Homo sapiens: one gene and its partner. The protein of the gene in region 1 interacts with the protein of each later gene in a biochemical or structural test. Each region holds a gene or a part of one and is shown on either strand. Other genes may lie near its edges. The genes, in order: MAP3K7 and NOD2.

The links.
Region 2: the proteins of MAP3K7 (region 1) and NOD2 form a complex in vitro, tested with the Homo sapiens proteins (2 studies listed by BioGRID).

What each region holds. Positions count from the first base shown.
Region 1 is NC_000006.12:90,552,458-90,556,279, reverse strand, and holds part of MAP3K7 (mitogen-activated protein kinase kinase kinase 7), read left to right. Parts: intron 1-2,693; coding exon 2,694-2,822; intron 2,823-3,822. UniProt on the Homo sapiens protein: Serine/threonine kinase which acts as an essential component of the MAP kinase signal transduction pathway. Plays an important role in the cascades of cellular responses evoked by changes in the environment.
Region 2 is NC_000016.10:50,727,821-50,731,642, reverse strand, and holds part of NOD2 (nucleotide-binding oligomerization domain-containing protein 2), read right to left. Parts: exon of another isoform or gene 3,193-3,822; intron 2,631-3,192; exon of another isoform or gene 2,493-2,630; intron 1,826-2,492; coding exon 1,742-1,825; exon of another isoform or gene 1,690-1,741; intron 1-1,689. UniProt on the Homo sapiens protein: Pattern recognition receptor (PRR) that detects bacterial peptidoglycan fragments and other danger signals and plays an important role in gastrointestinal immunity.

The DNA of each region.
Region 1 (3,822 bases):
GTTCACCAATTTCTTAATTGCAAAATTGCCTATTTGCTAACATTTATTTGTAACCCCAAAATTAATACTCATGGTGCTTTCATGGTTATTTGCAGACAGTGCTTTCATGTACTCGCAGACAGTGTGCATGCGCTGAGCAGTGCAAATTTTGAGTCATCTAACGCATGCTTCCAGCTGAGGTTGAACAAGACAACGTTTTTCCGTCTTGTTTCAGCTCTCATGCTGTAAGCAGGTGTCCTTTTTTGTGCTGTTCAGAGCCCTTTTTCATTTTTGTGATTTTTGTTGGTAATTTTGCTACTTAAAATGGCCCTCAAGCATAGTACTGCCTAAGTACAAGAAGGCTATGATGTATCTTAACAGACAATATACATATGTTAAATTATCTTCATTCAGGCATGAGTTACAGAAATGTTGACTATGAGTTCAATGGTAATAAATCAACAGTATATATGAATAAGGTGTCTTTAAGCAGAAATACGCATGAAACAAGGCTATATATTGATCAGTTGACAAAAACATGGTGACCAGAGGCACACAGGAACCTACCCCTGTATTTTCCTTAGGAGCAGTGATTCAGTGTTCACTAATTCAGTGTTCTCAGAAACTTTATAGAACATAAATACCAGGAATAATGAGAATTAACTGTGCTTTTGTATTGGTTTCCTAGCAATTAAAAATTGAGAGCCCTAAAGTTTAAATGAGGATGCCTTAAAAAGAATGCAAATAGCTGGGCGCGGTGGCTCAGGCCTGTAATCTCAGCACTTTGGGAGGCTGAGGTGGGCGGATCATGAGGTCAGGAGATCGAGACCATCCTGTATAACACGGTGAAACCCCATCTCTACTAAAACTACAAAAAATTCGCCGGGCGTGGTGGCGGGCGCCCGTAGTCCCAGCTACTCGGGAGGCTGAGGCAGGAGAATGGTGTGAACCCGGGAGGCGGAGCATGCAGTGAGCCGAGATCGTGCCACTGCACTCCAGCCTGGGTGACAGAGCAAGACTCCATCTCAAAAAAAAAAAAGAATGCAAGTAATTGGACAGAAATAAGATACTAAGAATTACAAATAAATGTCAAGCTTATATGTTTACCTTCTTTTATACCTCCATATGTCACTGAAGTTTTAAAAGAGTTGTCTGTAAATTATATGCTAGGTTTCTGTATAAAAACATCAAATTATCTTTTAAATGAAAGAAGTTGAACTGAAGGTATGTGATTTGTATGTTAGGAAGTGTAAATGCCCATAAAATTCAGATACATTCAGTTAATCAGACTCTGGTTATAGCTTATTTCTTTCAGTTTTGATGACTTTAAAGGGTTTTCTGTTTGTTTTTAGCCACCCCAGAGGAAGAGAAATTGCAATGCAACTAGTCACCTGAGTGGAGCTCTTTTGCCCTAAAATTCAATTTAGTAATAAATGAATAATCAGGTGTTATATTACACAAGATTAAATAATGCCTCCTGTTTCATATACAGAATGTATACATTTGACATTGTTTTAAAATTATTTACTTATTTAATATACCTTTATGTGAGTTAAAATGACCCAATGTTACTGTATGTGGAGAGCAAAAAGATTTGTTTATACAAAAGATTAATTTTATTGCTCTAGACAACCCTTAATTGTCTAGAGCAACAAAATGCAGACTGTTAGGCTGTGTAAGTTTCTTCATTTCTGAAAGATGTCAGTCAACCTGTAGCCCAAATTAGACTGTAGCATGGTTGTAGTGCTATATTACAGTGTACTGCTTAGCATGTAAAGCTATAGCTATAATAATTGTTCATTCTTACAGTGAGTTGAGTGTTTGTTTGTTTTTGGGAGATTATGACGGGTGCTTATTGTGCTGGCTGATTCAACCACCTACTTAGTTTGTAAATTTTGCTGTGTAACTCAGGTTATCCATAATTTTCGTTACTTACAACGTAATGTTTAAGTTTATAAATTAAGAATTTCCCTTCACCATATATTGAGGAAAAAACTGTAACACTAAATTAGAAAGTTCTTCTGCTTTGATAGCAGAGTAGTGCTGTCTGTCAGAGTGGGAAGAAAATTTAAGATTAAAATGTAACAGAAAGGAGGCCAGGCACAATGGCTCATGCCTGTGATCCCAGCGCCTCGGGAGGCCAGAGCAGGAGGATCAGTTGAGCCCAGGAGTTTGAGACCAGCCTGGGCAACATGGCAAGACCCCATCTCTACAAAAAATTTAAAAAATTAACCAGTTGTGCCAGCGCATGCCTGTAGCCCCAGCTACTCAGGAGGATCACTTGAGCCCAAGAGTTTGAGGCTACACTGAGCTCCAGCCTGGATGAGAGTGTGAGATCCTGTCTCAGAATAAAATAATAATAAACAACATAAAGGAATGTACAGATGTTTCATACTCTGCCCCAGAGAAAGTATCAGTCTAAATACATAAAAGTCAAGTCCTGTGCCTCTTGATGAAAAAACTGCCTCTTGATGAAAAAAGATAGAAAATAACTGAGTTTCTGAAGTAGTTTTTTAGTGTATTGTTGATACTTAATTCATTTAAAAATGTACTTGTTGAAAAGACAAAGTACTTCAGAAAGAGTAGTTTCTTAGTTCTACATGTGACAGCCTCATTTTTATCCCTGATACCCATTCTCAAAATTTAAGCCATTGTTTCTGTAAGTCATGTGGAAAAATAGTCTTTAGGTTATATACTACCTTTTTTTTTTCTAGGTAGTAATTACAGTGAAAAATGTGACGTCTTCAGCTGGGGTATTATTCTTTGGGAAGTGATAACGCGTCGGAAACCCTTTGATGAGATTGGTGGCCCAGCTTTCCGAATCATGTGGGCTGTTCATAATGGTTCGTAAAAAGAAATTTTTCTTAAAAGTACTTTTTGTGTTTTCTACTTGGAAGACTACTCCTGTCCCCTTCCCTAAAGAATATCATTTATCTCTAACATTAAAATGTACAATTCTTTGTTAAGAGACTGCTTTGCTATTATCAGACTCTGCCCTGTCCCTGCCCCAGAGTCCAGCAGAGCAGGATTGAGAGTAGTCCTGGTCTACACATGCGGCTGAGGATGTTCACTGGCTCCGCTGATTAGGGAAAGGCCATCAGTACGCAACCTAGACAGTTGGCTCTCTCTTAGGGAGAAGCATCAGGCTGGATCATGGAAAAAATAAAAAAATACATACATAAAATCTCTGACATGGTTAATATAACTGGAGAGTTATAGCCCTTTTCTCCTGAAGAAGCAAGGGCCTCATCAAGGAGAAGAAGCAAAGAATAATAATGCTTCACATATTTTTCCTGTTTATATTCTCACCCACCCTTAGAAGGTGAGTACTGTTGCCTCATTTTACAGATTAGGAAACTGAGGCCTAGAGAGGTTAAATAACTTGCTTAAGGTCACAAGATTAGTAAGTGGTAGAGCTGGGATTCAAATCCAGATGCTTCTGACTTGAATGCTCATATCTTAAGTCATATTGACTTATGGACTCAATGTCCTTGCATCTGTCCTGTTTCTTTTATAGTTCTGGTAATGTTGTTTTTAACCACATATGATGTTAGAATGCATCCTCTTCATTAGTAAAGTTACTTTACATTTGCTTGGGAAAATAGCTTTTCATGAAGGAAAATTACTTACCTTCTTAATTTTAGCGCCACTCTTAGTTATTTCATTTCTATGCCTTGTTTATAATCATGTGACTAATGGCCATTTTTTACATTATTCCACAAGTCTAAAAACAAATGTCTGCCTAATTATTTAGGTCATTCATAGATTTATCAAACAGTACCATCATCTGAGTAATCTTAGCTGTTTTTACCAGTTTCCTATACTGCCTTTAATATTACTACC
Region 2 (3,822 bases), on another chromosome or scaffold:
TCTCTGGCCCAGCTGCAGTGTTTCTTGCAGGGAAGTCAGGGCTGTTTTTACCCTTGGCCAACCAGGGCAGCTCAGGAAGCATTCTGAACAAGGCTCCATGACTCTGCAGAGAGAGTCCACAACACTGCACCCAGCCAGCCACAGACTCCCCAAGGCCAGTGATTCTTTTTAAGGCAATAAGAGAATCTGTCAAGAATGCAATGAGCAAACCCTGGTGCCCTCCCAAGTTCCATCAACAGGCAGCAAATAACATCAGACCCCTTAAAATATCAACCTCATGTTGGCTGGTGCCCAGGACCCAGAATGTGATGTTTCTTAGGACTGTGCAATGGTTTCAAAAACAAAGAAACAGAAAACCTACACTTTGCCCAGAACCTGATGACGTCATAGGCCACAGAGCTATCACAATCATACAGAAGGAAAAATCTCTCCATCACAGCATAGATTTTTGAAGTCACTTTTAAATTTTTTATTTTTTTAAGAGATGGGATCTAATTCTGTCGCCTGTGCAGTGATGCAATCATGGCCCACTGCAGCCTTGAACTCCTGGGTTCAAGGGATCCTTCCATCCCAGCCTCCCAAGTGGCTAGGAACTACACCGCACCCAGCTGAATTTTTTATTTTTTGAGAGACAAGGTCTGGTGTTGAACCTCTGGCCTAAAGTGATCCTCCTGCCTCAGCCTCCCAAAGTGCTAGGATTACAGGTGTGAGCTGCCACGCCCAGCAAAGCTTTTGTTTTTAACTTCATCATTTGATATCTGCATTCGCTGCAGCCTTGATGTGCTTTTTGAGAGAAGACAAGGCCTGCATATTTAAAGCAAGGGTCACAGGCTTATGGGAATGAGTTGCCAAAGGGTCCTGGTCTAAGACAATAGGCTTGGTGGATCTGCAGTCAGCCAGAGTGGGTTTGCCCATCTGAGAAGACTCAGCCCTTCTTGTACTCTGGTTAACTACTGGAATCATGAATGGGCATCCAGAGTTCCCAGCTCTTTTGAGAAAACCCTGAGATATAGATTTTCTATAGGAAATTTCCTGGCTTTTAAATATTAGTCTCTAGCCCAGTGCCTGGAACATATATAGTAGCATTCACTTACAGCACATTAGGCCAGGGAAAGCCTTTACTTATTGTCTGAGAAATAGATCCCTGGAAACAAGAAGGACAAATCTTTGAAGCTGTGGCTCAGCAGAGAGAAAGTCTACAACACTGGACCCAGCTGCCCAGACTCCCAAGGCTAGTCATTCTTTTTAAGGCAATGAAAGAATCTGTCAAGAATGCAATTCTTGCTTTTTTCAATACATGAAAGTCTATGGCTTTAATTATAGAGAATTGGAAACACTGTGCAACCTGCTCCTAACCTGTGTAATCTCCATTCAGAACCGCAGAAGGTCTGATCCAATATCCTTGACCTGTGAAGGCAGATGCAATTTCTAGGAGGGCGGGAGCTGACTTTTCTTTTCATTCTTCAACCACATCCCCATTCCTACACTATCTCATAGAGCAGAGAAGTTGCTGAATAAATAGTCAAGGTTTAAAAATGAAATCATTGCTCCCTACTTAAAGAGGTAAAGACTTCTTTCTTAGACAGAGAATCAGATCCTTCACATGCAGAATCATTCTCACTGAATGTCAGAATCAGAAGGGATCCTCAAAATTCTGCCATTCCTCTCTCCCGTCACCCCATTTTACAGATAGAAAAACTGAGGTTCGGAGAGCTAAAACAGGCCTGCCCAGGGGCCTTACCAGACTTCCAGGATGGTGTCATTCCTTTCAAGGGCCTGCAGGAGGGCTTCTGCCCCTAGGTAGGTGATGCAGTTATTGGACAACCTGGAAAAGAAGATACAATGGTGAGCTTCAAGGATTCTTGGTTTTCCTCTTGAAACTGTCCAGTTAAAGAGACTGCAGGAGTTAGCCAGTCTACTGAAGCCCACCTGTCCCTTAGACACATCCTGCTCATGTCTGAGATTCCCAATGAGCTCATCAACAAAGGCTCAGTACCATCAGTGAAATGTAACCGTCTCTCTTCCATTCACTAGATGAGTTTATCAAATTAAGTAGCCACTCCCTTAGGATAGTGGTTAAGTACCTGCATTTTAGTGCTAGACATCCTGGGTTTAAATCCCACCTACACCACTTCTTTTTTGATCTCGAGCAAATTAGTCCCAATCTCCTCATTGGTAAAATGGGCCTAAAAGAGTACCCGTGCCATCGAGCATAAGAATCTAAATTGTGATGGGTGTAAGCAGGCTCCTATTCACATCCACCATCCATCTCCTTGTGGCATGGGTCCTGGGCCATTAAGTCAGCCACCAGTCCCCCATTACCTCCCCACACTCTGCTTGCTGGGAAGACCCACCACTCTCTGCATGCCTAAAACACTTGCACAGTACTTGATATGGTTTGGCTGTGTCCCCACCCAAATCTCTTGAATTCCCACGTGTTGTGGGAGCGACCCAGTGGAAGGTAATTGAATCCCATCCTGTTCTCATTACAGTAAATAAGTTTCATGATATCTGATGGTTTTAAAAAGGGGAGTTTCCCTGAACAAGCCCTCTTCTCCTGTCTGCTGCCATGTGAGATGTGCCTTTCACCTTCAGCCATGATTGTGAGACCTCCCCAGCCACGTGGAACTGTAAGTTCAATAAAACTCTTTCTTTCATAAAGTGCCCAGTCTTGGGTATATCTTTATCATCAGCATGAAAACGGACTAATACAGTACTTAATTGATAGAAAATAACCAATGAGCAGTAATATTTCTATTTTCAGGGGGGTCTTTGAGGGCACAGAGACAGAGATTAGAGAACATATGAGGTAGCTGACAACAGGGAGGGGAGACAGGATAGGGCCAGGGACAGCAACAGAGGAGTCATGTGTTTCCCAGGTTGCTCTTTTGGTTACAGCTTTGCCTTCCAATAATGTCCACTCCAGGTCCTCCCCCTTTCCCACAATTTCAGGAATGTCTTACAAGTTGACCCTAAGGCAATGCCAATTGTAATTGCCAGTATTTATTGAACTTCTATTAGATTGGTGCAAAAGTAATTGCAGTTTTTGCATTGTTGAAATTTGCCATTTGATATTGGAATACATTCTTAAATAAATGTGGTTATGCTATACATCATTTTAATGCACAATTCTCACTTTATGATTTTTTGCTAATGACTTAATACTTTCTGTTTATTTTATATTTATTTTAGACTATGAAAATGATGTTAGACAAAAAGCAAATTCAAGCAATTTTCTTATTTGAATTCAAAATGGGTTGTAAAGCAGCGGAGACAACTCACAACATCAGCAATGCATTTGGCCCAGGAACTGCTAACTAACGTATAGTGCAGTGGTGGTTCAAGAAGTTTTGCGAAGGAGATAAGAGCCTTGAAGATGAGGAGTGTACTGGCAGGCCATCAGAAGCTGACAATGACCAATTGAGAGCAATCATCAAAGCTGATTTTCTTACAACTACTTGAGAACTCAACATCGACCATTCCATGGTCATTCAGCATTTGAAGCAAATTGGAAAGGTGAAAAACCTCGATAAGTGTGTGCCTCATGAGCTGAGTGAAAACCAAGAAAATCGTCATTTTGAAGTGTCATCTTCTCTTATTCTACACAACAACAGCGAACCATTTCTTGATCTGATTGTGACGTGCGATGAAAAGTGGATTTTATACAACTGGCAATGACTAGCTCAGTGGTTGGACCGAGAAGAAGCTCCAAAGCACTTCCCAAAGGCAAATTCGCACCAAAAAAAAAAGGTCATGGTCACTGGTGGTCTGCTGCTAGTCTGATCCCCTACAGCTTTCTGAATCCCTGCGAAACCATTACAT